Linked DNA regions of Homo sapiens. The protein of the gene in region 2 interacts with the protein of the main gene of each other region in a pairwise test. Each region holds a gene or a part of one and is shown on either strand. Other genes may lie near its edges. The genes, in order: PIAS4, ZBTB34 and RNF4.

What was found.
Region 1: the proteins of ZBTB34 (region 2) and PIAS4 interact in binary tests that used the Homo sapiens proteins (3 or more experiments, as listed by UniProt).
Region 3: the proteins of ZBTB34 (region 2) and RNF4 interact in binary tests that used the Homo sapiens proteins (3 or more experiments, as listed by UniProt).

Annotation. Positions count from the first base shown.
Region 1 is NC_000019.10:4,031,648-4,035,294, forward strand, and holds part of PIAS4 (E3 SUMO-protein ligase PIAS4), read left to right. Parts: intron 1-1,452; coding exon 1,453-1,526; intron 1,527-1,772; coding exon 1,773-1,933; intron 1,934-3,647.
Region 2 is NC_000009.12:126,877,492-126,881,138, reverse strand, and holds part of ZBTB34 (zinc finger and BTB domain-containing protein 34), read right to left. Parts: intron 1,750-3,647; coding exon of another isoform or gene 1,740-1,749; coding exon 225-1,739; 3' UTR 1-224. UniProt on the Homo sapiens protein: May be a transcriptional repressor.
Region 3 is NC_000004.12:2,500,007-2,503,653, forward strand, and holds part of RNF4 (E3 ubiquitin-protein ligase RNF4), read left to right. Parts: intron 1-652; coding exon 653-732; intron 733-3,647. UniProt on the Homo sapiens protein: E3 ubiquitin-protein ligase which binds polysumoylated chains covalently attached to proteins and mediates 'Lys-6'-, 'Lys-11'-, 'Lys-48'- and 'Lys-63'-linked polyubiquitination of those substrates and their subsequent targeting to the proteasome for degradation.

The DNA.
Region 1 (3,647 bases), on a different chromosome or scaffold from region 2:
TGACCAGAGCCCGCAGTGCTGGGGGCTGTGGGGTCAGGCTTCCTCTCCGAAGGGGTCTCCTGCTGCTTCCCACAGCCGGCCCCAGGCTCAGCCTCTCTGTCACTGGATTTCTTTCTTGCTGCACCTAGGAAGTCCTCACCTTTGCCTCACTTGAACCCTTCCTGCTGCGCACGTCTCTCCATACACAAAGGAGGGAGAGTTTGCTTTAAAATCAGATGGGCACCTGCATCCCCTCCTAGCTGCCCCTTTGCCAGGCTTGAGGGTCCACCCGGGCACCGGGTAGCCAGAGCTGGGATCCAAGGATGGAAACTCAGCTGAGGAGTGAGCGGCTGGGGCAGCCTTGGCTCAAGCAGGGGAGCTGCTGGGAGCCAGCACGTGGCTGCCACCACGTCCCCACGGGAGAAGGAAGAGCCCACTGCTCCACACCCCGGCTGGGGGTCTGGGTGGGGGTCAGGAAGGAGGAAGTGGCTCCCAAGCGGGCAGAGATAAGTGGTGTTTCAGGCCAATAAGGGGTGGTAGGGGCATTTCCAGGCGGAGGAACGTCAGGACAGCTGGGGGGAGTGGGGGGGCAGGCTGGCACCATCACTCTGGACCCCAAGTCACTTGGGCAGGTGGCTTCCTGGAGGAAGCAACACTGGTCCACCAGGCAGCTGAGGGCCAGGTGGTGGATGGAGAGGCCCTGTGGGTTGTGGGCCAGGGTGGCCTGCCCCCCATGGCCCAGGGCTGGGGTCTCTCCTGAGCTACCCATGGATGGAGTTTACCCTGGGATGGAGCCACATCCCAGAAGCCTCAGGAGGGCAGCCAGGGTCCCTGCGTGAGTTTCCTTCTGGCTGTGGGCCTGCTGCCCGTCGAGGGGAGGGCGGCGCCTGCCTCCAAGACTTCATGTTTCACATATGTTTCCCCATGTTCCGTGCAGCTTGCTGGCGGGCACCGTCTTTTCCTTTAAAGAAGCAGCTACACTCCTGTCTGCAGGCTGCCTTGGGGCGGTGCTGGGGCTGGGCGGCAGCCGCTTGCTGGCTCACAGCCAGGAAGCCCCAGGATCCGTCTCCCAAAGAGTCCCTGCCTCATTCCCCGCTGTGGCCTTGGGGATGGTGCTTCGGTGACAGAATGAAGTCACAGCAATGACTCTTTCGGTGGCTGTGTTGCATGAAACTTGCCAGAAAAGTCCCATGGGTCATAGTCCACGCAGGGTGGGGGAGGCCACATAGGCCACCTCCGTGTGGGGGCTTCGGCTGGGTCTGTGCTGTGCCCAGGTTGTGGTCAAATCTAATGGTGGTTGCCACCCGGCTTTCTCCAATCCCTCACGGCCCCGAGCCACACAGCGAAGCTTGGGACTCATCGTCAGGGGCCTGTTCTGGGAGGTGGACGTCAGTGCCGGAGAGAACTCGAATCACAGCCCCGCGCCCTGCTGTTCCCACCCTCCTGACGGTGTCTTCCGTTCCCTCCCCACAGTCAAGGAGAAGCTGCGCCTTGATCCTGACAGCGAGATCGCCACCACCGGTGTGCGGGTGTCCCTCATCTGTCCGGTGAGTCGGGGCGCGGTCCCCTCCTCGAGGCCTCTCCTGCGGCCGGCCTTCCCCCCTGGCGGCCCTGGGCCCGGGGCGGCTTGGCTGGGCCGTGAGCCTGCGGGGGCGAGGCTGGTCTTCGTCCCCTCCGTGTTCCTGAGGCATGAGTGATTGGAGCGAGCCACAGGATGGAGCTGGGGGTGAGGGGCACCGGGCAGGCGGGCACAACAGGAGGGGTGCCCTGCTCACGCAGCCCCTCCCCCACAGCTGGTGAAGATGCGGCTCTCCGTGCCCTGCCGGGCAGAGACCTGTGCCCACCTGCAGTGCTTCGACGCCGTCTTCTACCTGCAGATGAACGAGAAGAAGCCCACCTGGATGTGCCCCGTGTGCGACAAGCCAGCCCCCTACGACCAGCTCATCATCGACGGGTGAGCCCGGGGCCCCGGGGAGGGCGGCCGGAGCCGGACATCCGTGGAGGTCTCGGTGGCACCCCGCTTCCTGCAGACCACATGGTGCCCCAGCAAGACACAGCAGTGGGGGCACATGGTCCTGGAGCTTTGGAAACCCCGGGCTGCGAAAAGAGCCGGTTTCTTTCTCGCGGAACTTCTCAGAGCCTTTGCTATGCAGGTGACAGCCACGTAGCTTAGGTTGCAGAAGGTGGGCTCCGGTCCACCCCGCTCCCACGTGACCTCAGGCAAGTGTGACCCTGAGCTCCAGGAGTGTGGTTTGTGCCACAAAAAACTGAGCCAGGTCGTGCTTTCACACGGCGTTCACCCCAGGACGCGCAGCCTTGGGGGTGACCTCCTCACAGAAAGGCAAAGGAGGTGGCGCCTCCTGGAGCACTCTGGCTACGCCATGCCCTTCCCTTCCTAGGTGGCACAGCTGTGGCCAGGCATTCCCCAGGCCACAGGGGACAGGAGGACAAGACCTTTCTCCCTGGTGGAAGGCTCTGCCCAGGGCTTAAGTTTCCAGAAACTGAGCCCCGTTGTCTGTGGTGCCTGATGCGGCTCCTGCCCGGCGCCGACCGCGCCCACCTCGTCCCCAGAGCCGCCGGCAGGGCGCGAGGCCACAGCGGCACAAGCTGGCGCCCTCACAGGCGGGAGCAGGCCCTGCCTGTGGGGGTGGGCCGGGTCCCCAGCCCTCAGGCATGGCCTCAGCGGACTGTGCAGGTGAAGGCAGGGCTGGCCTGCCTCTGGGGTTGTAGATTTCATCCCCAGGTGGACCTCCGGTTCATGCACTTGTCCCCATCCCAGGAGACAGACCTGTGAGCGTCCTCAGTTTACAGACGAGGAAACAGGCTCAGAGGAGGCAACCAGCAGCTGGAGCTACCCCGGCTCACGGGGCCAGGCTGAGACTTGAACCCAGCCTGAGTCTGGGTCCCCTCTGTGGAGGGCTGGGTGGCCACCCCCTTGCATCCCAGCTTCGGGTAGAGAGAGGAGTCCTTTGGGCCGGGCACGTGGGCTGCCTGAATGGCTGCTCTGTTCCCAGCCTGACAGCTGTGCAGCCGGGTGCCCGCCTTCCCCCACAGGCCCGGAGTGGGGCTTGGGCTTGGGGTGGCGGCAGCTCTCACAGCTCCAGGGCCACCAGGGCTGGGGCAGGCAGCTGTGTCCCATGCAGGCCTTGGCCTCAGCAGCCCATGGGACTCGGTGTAGCCAGGGAGGCTTCCTGGAGGAGGGGTCCTTGGTTCATACTTTGTTCCATGAGCCCTATCACCTCTCTGTCCCTGGCTCTGAGCTGGGTGACCCCAGGGTCCCCAAAAGAGCCCCGTCCCAGACCCTGCCTTCAGAGTCTTGTTCTTGGCCAGGGGAGCGGATAGAGGAGCAGAGCCAGACATAAACGTTCCCGTTGCTGTGTGTGTCTTGGGGAGGAGGAAGAGAAGCTGTGGGGTGGGGCTTTGGAGGGTGAAAAGCAGTTTTGCAAGCAGGGAAGTGGGCAGGCAGGGCTGTGCTACGCCTGGGGCGGCCCTGGCACGGTGGGCTCCGAGCATCGCCTCAGAGAGAGCTCGGCGGGGCGGAGGGGCTGGCCTGGGTGAGAGCCTCAGAAAGGGTGGCCCAGAGTGGGACGAGGGCTCTCCTGTGTGATGAGAACGATGCCACTGCGGGTGCCTGGGAGCAGCTGTAGCCTTGACAGTAACAGGCCAGC
Region 2 (3,647 bases):
CTGTGTTTTCCCTGGATGCGTTGCCCTTCATGCTTTGAGCTCCTTCGGGGAGGGAGGGCAGGGGAAAGGATAAACACAACGAAGTGTTCCATCCAGAAACTTTAGAAAAACTGCCAAGAGACCAAGAGATTTCCAGATGGTTGGGAAAACCAAAGATTACAACAAAGCAAATCACAAATATGCATTGATTAATGTGCTTTGTTTGGGTGCACTTCTTTACCATCTTAATCGGGAGCATCAGACACTGTGTGAATTTCCATCCGGGAATCTAGGCCCATCTCTGAGGCCGATGCGTCATTTTCTAGTTTCTGTTCCACGTACACATCTGTTCTCTCGGGGGACTCAATGCGACTCCTGACTTCAGCAACGCCTGGGTGGTTTTTCCGCAAGTGCTGGTTGAGGGTACCTTGGAATGGAAAGCACTTCCCGCAGATCTCACAGCGGAATGGTTTATCATCTGTATGGCCCCGGATGTGGTACTCCAGTTGGTCCTTCCGTGTGTACTTCTTCCCACAGAACTTGCACACAAAGGGGGTGATTCCCATATGGAGTCGCATGTGCCTATCAAGGCTTCCTTTCTGGTTGAAGGACTTTCCACAGTAAATACAGATCAACCTCTCATTGTACGGGTACCAATGCCCTCTCGCACTCCTCTCCCGGGGACTGCTCTCATACCCGGGGTTGTTCATCATGGCTTCACTGTCAGAGCCCTGCACCAGGCCCTGCAGGTCACTGTGCAGGTGGACAGACAAAGCCCGCTTCTGGCGGGCACGCCCTCCTCGGAAACAGCTCAGCATGGACCTGGATGGGCTGGAATTACTCAAACTTCCAAAAGCTTCTGATACATTGGTTGGCTGTGAGGCTGCTTGGGAATAGGAGTATGCGTGCTGGAGCACAGAACCATAGGAGCCCACATTCACTGCCACAACTTGTTCCCCATCAACCATCTCGGTGTGGTACCCATCGTCACCCAGGGAGGAGCTGTCGGAACAGCTGGGCCGGTCGGACTTCTCCATCTTCACTTTCACCTCGGTGATCTGGCTCTCCCTCACCAATAGGTCTCCTTGCTCATGGTCTCCCTCTATCTGAATCTCATATTCAGAAACGCTCCCACTGCTCCCGCGGTCTGAGTGCCCCTCCTCCTGTAAGCGGCTGCGCAAAGCTTTGCTGGGGGTCGTCTCCATCCGGAGGTCACTGCTTGCGGTGGGCTGCCGTCCCTGAGAGCAATATGGAGGAGAGATCTCCACTGGGTTGGCAAAGAAGCTGCTGTCTTTCACTCCGTTTCGACTCTCGGGATTCTCTTCAGCACCGACGGTAACAGAGTCAACATCTCCAACGCTGATTTTGGAATGGATGCTCTCTAGGATCTGCGTGCACTTGTCAATGACACACTGCATCTGAAGAAAGCTGGCTGCAGTCAGAAAACTGACAACATCCTTCAGCTGCAAGGACATTCTTCCAGTGTAACAAAAAGAAAGCAACTGCTCAAACACATTGGGATTTTTAATCACTGATATTGACAAGCCACTCATGGTACTTAACGCTGAATGGTCCCGGAAATATGGGGAGCTGGCAGCAAGGACTGCTTTGTGGGCTCGGAATGGCTGACCCTGAATGTGTACAATGATGTCACATAGTTTCCCCTGCAGGCGGAGTTCGTTTAGCTGGCTCAGAACGGTGCTGCTGTACTCGGGCACATCAAACTGAATAAAACTGCTGCTGTCCATTTCTACTGACATGAAGCGTACTCTGCGGAGAGAGAGAGTTTGCATCATTCACCAATGACTCCTCACTAAGTACAAGTGGCATAAACACAAGCTTACAACAACAATACCATTGTGGCTATCATACCTCCTAAAATCTACCTGAAGCATTCTTCCCCTTGTTTTAGTCTTTCATGTTTTGGTTAATTCACCTAAAGCCAAATAAACTAATGATCAATTAGCCTAATGTCATAATTGCCTAATATTCATCTTGATCAAAAGTAAAATATTTTACACATAGTAGGACTATTTTGGCTCTGACTGAGAAATTGGTCTCCTTTTAGGAAAAATATTTCCCCATTTCAAGTACTTTTGAGGGTTTGAAGTACTTTGTGAAAAATAACTAAATTCAGGCCAGGCGCAGTGGCTTACACCTATAATCCCAGCACTTTGGGAGGCTGAGGGAGGCGGATCACTTGAGGTCAGGAGTTTGAAACCAACCTGGCCAACATGGTAAAACCCCATCTGTACTAAAAATACAAAAATTAGCCTGGTGTGGTGTTGTGCACCTGTAATTCCAGCTACTTGGGAGGCTGCAGCAGGGGAATCGCTTGACCTCAGAAGGCAGAGGTTGCAGTGAGCCGAGAGCACACCACTGCATCCCAGCCTAGCGGACAGAGTGAGACTCCTTCTAAAAAAAAAAAAAAAACAAAACAAAAACAAAACTAAATTCATCTAAAAATGTTCTACCTTACTTGTGTATTTCTGATTGGTATTTTTCAACTCTGTAGCACACTGGATACAATAAATGGAGCTAAACCCTTTTCAGTATTATTGTCTTGATTTGTGTGTTTGCCCTTCAGCTCTGTACACCTTTATATCTCTTTTGGGTTGGGTTGCTTTGGCTGAGACTTACCATGCTCAGTCTCCTTCAGTGAAGAGTTATTATTACTTTTTTTTTTTTTTGAGACAGAATCTTGCTCTGTTGCACAGGCTGGAGTGCAGTGGCGTGATCTCGGCTCACTGAAACCTCCGCCTCCTAGGTTCAAGCAATTCTCATGCCTCAGCCTCCTGAATAGCTGGGATTACAGGCATGCGCTACCATGCCCAGTTAATTTTTGTATTTTTAGAAGAGACGGGATTTCACCATGTTGTCCAGGCTGGTCTCGAACTCCTGACCTCAGGTGATCTGCTCCCCTCGGCCTCCCAAAGTCCTGGGATTACAGGCAAGAGTCACCACACCGGCCTATTATTACTATTTTTTATTAGAGATGAGGTCTCATTATGTTGCCCAGGCTGGTCTTGAACTCCTGAGCTCGTGATCCTCCCACCTCAGCTTCCCAAAGTGCTAGGATTGCAAGTGTGAGCTGCCACACCCGACCAGTGAAGAGTTATTTTAGACAATATTTTATTTTATTTATTTTTATTTTATTTTTACAGATGGAGTCTCGCTCTGTCGTCCGGAGTGCAATGGCATGATCTTGGCTCACTGCAACATCTGCCTCCTGGGTTCAAGTGATCCTCCTGCCTCAGCCTCCTGAGTAGCTGGACTACAGGCGTGCACCACCACACCCAGCTAGTTTTTGTATTTTCAGTAGAGATGGGGTTTCACCATGTTAGCCAGGCTGGTCTCGAACTCCTGACCTCAAGTGATCTGCCTGCCACGGCCTCCCAAAGTGCTGAGATAACAGGCGTGAGCCACCGCGCTCTGCCAAGACAGTGTTTTTAAACAGTAGTTATTTTAGACAACAAGAGTGAAAGGGTGATGGACACATCAAAAGGAATCACCTTCTACTAGCGCTCACAGCTGCGGCACACCTACAACAGGTTTCCTTCCTGTGGCCTAAAATCTGCAGCGCCAGACTGCTCAGAACTACTTAAGTATATATAGCCCCGGCTCCATCCTCTGACAGAAACATAACAAAACCAGATCTAACAATTATA
Region 3 (3,647 bases), on a different chromosome or scaffold from region 2:
AATTAGCCAGGCATGCTGCCAGGCGCCTGTAATCCCAACTACTCGGGAGGCTGAGACAGAGAATTGCTTGAACCCAGGAGGCGGAGGTTGCAGTGAGCCAAGATCGCACCACTGCACTCCAGCCTTGGCGACAGAGCGAGACTCTGTCTCAAAAAAAAAAAAAAAAAAAAAGAATTTGCCCTAGATTAACCGATGAAGTTACTAAGCTAAGCCTGACTTTTGGTCCTTGGGCCAAGTGAGAGTGGTCAGCTTCACCTGCTGGGAGGAGCAGAGGTTTCAGGCTAGTCCATCCCAAAGAGAAAGGCCTGGGGCTGGGCATGCATGGTGCGTTCTCCCAGATGGGGCACAGAGGCATAGCCGTGTGGAAGTGGGATGCCGTGGAATAGAGGTATGCACATGCGCACACATACATAACCCCCCAGGTACATTTGTAAAAACCATACCTCCCCACTCAGAGCAGAATTCTGGAAGGGTGGTTACTGGCTTTCCCTCCTGAGGGAGGTGTTGGTCCTGGTGCTCTTTGCAGTGTATACTTCAGGATTGTTTTAGTTTGGGGTAAGCCTATAACATTAGCAGTCATACTAAAGTGTAGAGGGATACAACCTTACTTTCCTCTTAATCTTAATGCTTGTTGAAATACTTTCTTTTGAAGCTGGAGATGAAATTGTGGACCTCACTTGTGAATCTTTAGAGCCTGTGGTGGTTGATCTGACTCACAATGACTCTGTTGTGGTAAGTGTTGGAGTGTGAGAGTCGGCTGTTTCTTGGGTATGGGTCCCTGGCCAGTGCCAGCATCTGACAGCCTTGGTCACAGACTCCAAGTCAAGGTTACAGCTTATGCTAAAGAAGTTCATGCATCTTGTGGAATTGAGCTTTTAGAAAGAAAATAAACAGTAACAATAATAATAACAAAGAAGTTCATGCATTCAGTGACGAGAGCCCAAAATGAAAAATGTTTCTGGAAAATCATTTGTTATAGCCTTGTCGCCTATGGAGTAGGTCTGTGTAACCTGACCTTGCCACACCTGGGCACAAAAGTGGTTTGGGGAGAATCTCAAGACCCCCACATCTGTCTTCAGTCCCTGATTCCACAGTTTACACCAGCTGTGTGACCTTGGGCATGTGACTTAGCCTCATTCACTTTCCATGAAATGGGGACAGGTCACTCATGTCAGCAGGGCATGGTGTAAGACATCTTACAACAGATGCCGTGTTTGAGTGCCTGACACCTAGAATGGTGCCCAGTCACTGTGAGTGTATGCCCTCCCAACTGAAAGGAAAGGGAACGTTGGCTCAGCACTGCCCATGGGAAATCTCTCAAGTTCCAAAAGTGCCTGCTACTTAGCATGGCCTCAGGGGATGCAGGCTCCCTGCATTGCCACCTGATGCCTGCTGCGTCCTGATGCCAGGGAGGCTGGAGCCCAGGAGGCTGCCTGTGTCCCTGTCTCATGGCACCGGTTACAGACTGCAGGGGACGTGTGTATACGTGTCCTGCCTGCCAGGAGGGAGGCCTTGTCTGGTCAGAGGACACACGGAGAAGCTATTTCTGATAGACCTGTTTCATGGTGCATGCAGGTCTGGGAATCTGGTCAGCATCTTAAGGGCAAGTTTGCCTCTGGAAGATGCCACTTGAGTGTTTTCTGACAGTGTGCTCGGAACACAGGTCGGGGTGGGGGCACACTTGGCAGCATTGGCAGTGGGGTGGTAAGTGCTGCTGAGGAGGACTGTGGGGTGTGGGGGCTGCTAGTAGCTGAGTCTTCGCCTTGGCCCTGGGCTCACTGGTGTTGGGGTTATCCTGTTTGGCTGATGCCTGGGTATCTGAATAGGGACACCCCATAGGTGTTGCTTCTTAGTTGTGCTGAGAACTTCAGAATAGGGTTATACTGAGAAGTTTCAAGACTTCAATGCAAAGAAAAGGACAGGGATGGAAAACCATCTGAGATAAGCAGCAGTGGGTTTAGTTGTACGTGGTCCCTGCTTAGGTCTCATTAACGTGTTTTCTGAGGTACATACACACATATGACTTTGCTTATCATCCCTGTGTCCTGCATGGAGTTCTGGAAAGATAACTAATTTGGTATATTAGCTGGCAGCTACAGCACAGTCACTGATTTTTCCCCTCTTTCTTTTTCCCAGCTGACACCTTGGTTTCACCAGTTGCTCATTAAAGCTGGAAAGTGGTGTCTGCAGAAGTTTTTTTGTTTTTTGTTTTTTGTTTTTCTTGAATACTCAGTGTTCACCACAGTCTTCTTGGCCTTCTCTCTGCCAGACCCTGAGGAGAGAGCTAGGATTTTGACTGCAGGAAGACAATGATTGATTGGCTTTTGTTGGCTGACAAACCAACATCATTTCCCCTTTCACACTTGTGTTTTCTTTTGCTTTAGAAACAGGGTCTCAGGCTGGGCGCGGTGGCTCACGCCTGTAATCTCAGCACTTTGGGAGGCCGAGGTGGGCGGACCACAAGGTCAGGAGTTTGACATCAGCCTGGCCAACATGGTGAAACCCTGTCTCTACTAAAAATACAAAAATTATGCGGACGCCTGTAGTCCCAGCTATTCAGGAGGCTAAGGCAGGAGAATCGCTTGAACCCAGGAATCAGAGGTTGCAGTGAGCCGAGATCACGTCACTGCACTCCAGCCCGGGCAACAGAGTGAGACTCCATCTCAAAAAAAAAAAAAAATACAAAAATTAGCCAGGTGTGATGATGCATACCTGTAATCCCAGCTACTCGGGAGGCTAAGGCAGGAGAATTACTTGAACCCAGGAGGCGGAGGTTGCAGTGAGCCAAGATCGCGCCACTGCACTCAAGCCTGGGCGACAGAGCAAGACTCTGTCTCAAAAAAAAAAAAAAAGAAAAGAAAAGAAACAGGGTCTCACTCTGTTGCCCAGGCTAGAGAGCAGTGGCATGATCACACCTTACTGCAGCCTCCAACCCCTGAGCTTAAGTGATTCTCCCACATTATCCTCCTGAGTAGCTGAGACTACAGGTGCATGCCACCATACACTACTAAATTTGGGTCGGGTGGTGGTGGTGATTTTTTAATATTTTTGTAGAGACAGGGTCTCACTGTGATGCCCAGGCTGGTCTTGAACTCCTGGGCTCAAGCAGTCACCCACCTCAGCCTCCCAAAGCACTAGGATTACAGGTGTGAGCCACCACACTGGCCAGCTTTGTTTTGTTTTGATGACTAAGCTGCTCTTGCTAAAAGGGCTTCCTCTCTGAACTTCCCTACCTTTCTTCTGTTTCCCTGGGCTAGGGCTCCATGTTGGCAGTCCTACTCCCAATTAACCTGGGGCTGTCTGGTTAACCTTTATAAGATCTGCAGTCATTGGGAGACCCGGGGACCAGGAATATTGGTGTTGAGGGAGCTACCCTGGAAAGTGGATGGGTGGCCAGAGGGAGAGCTGATAGGTAAAAGGGAGACGCTCCTGGCTTGGGAAGCAGGAGTCCTAGGTTCTGGTCTCTCAGATCTACTGGTCAGTTTGATCAGTGGATTTATCTCACACTGTCCTCAGTGTTGTCAGCCACAAAATAACTGCTTTGGACTTGATAGCTCTTGCTAATCATTCTCTACTTATTTTTGATTTTAATAAGTCCAAGTGCCAGTTTATGAATTTACACTGAGACATATACTTGAGTTTGGAAT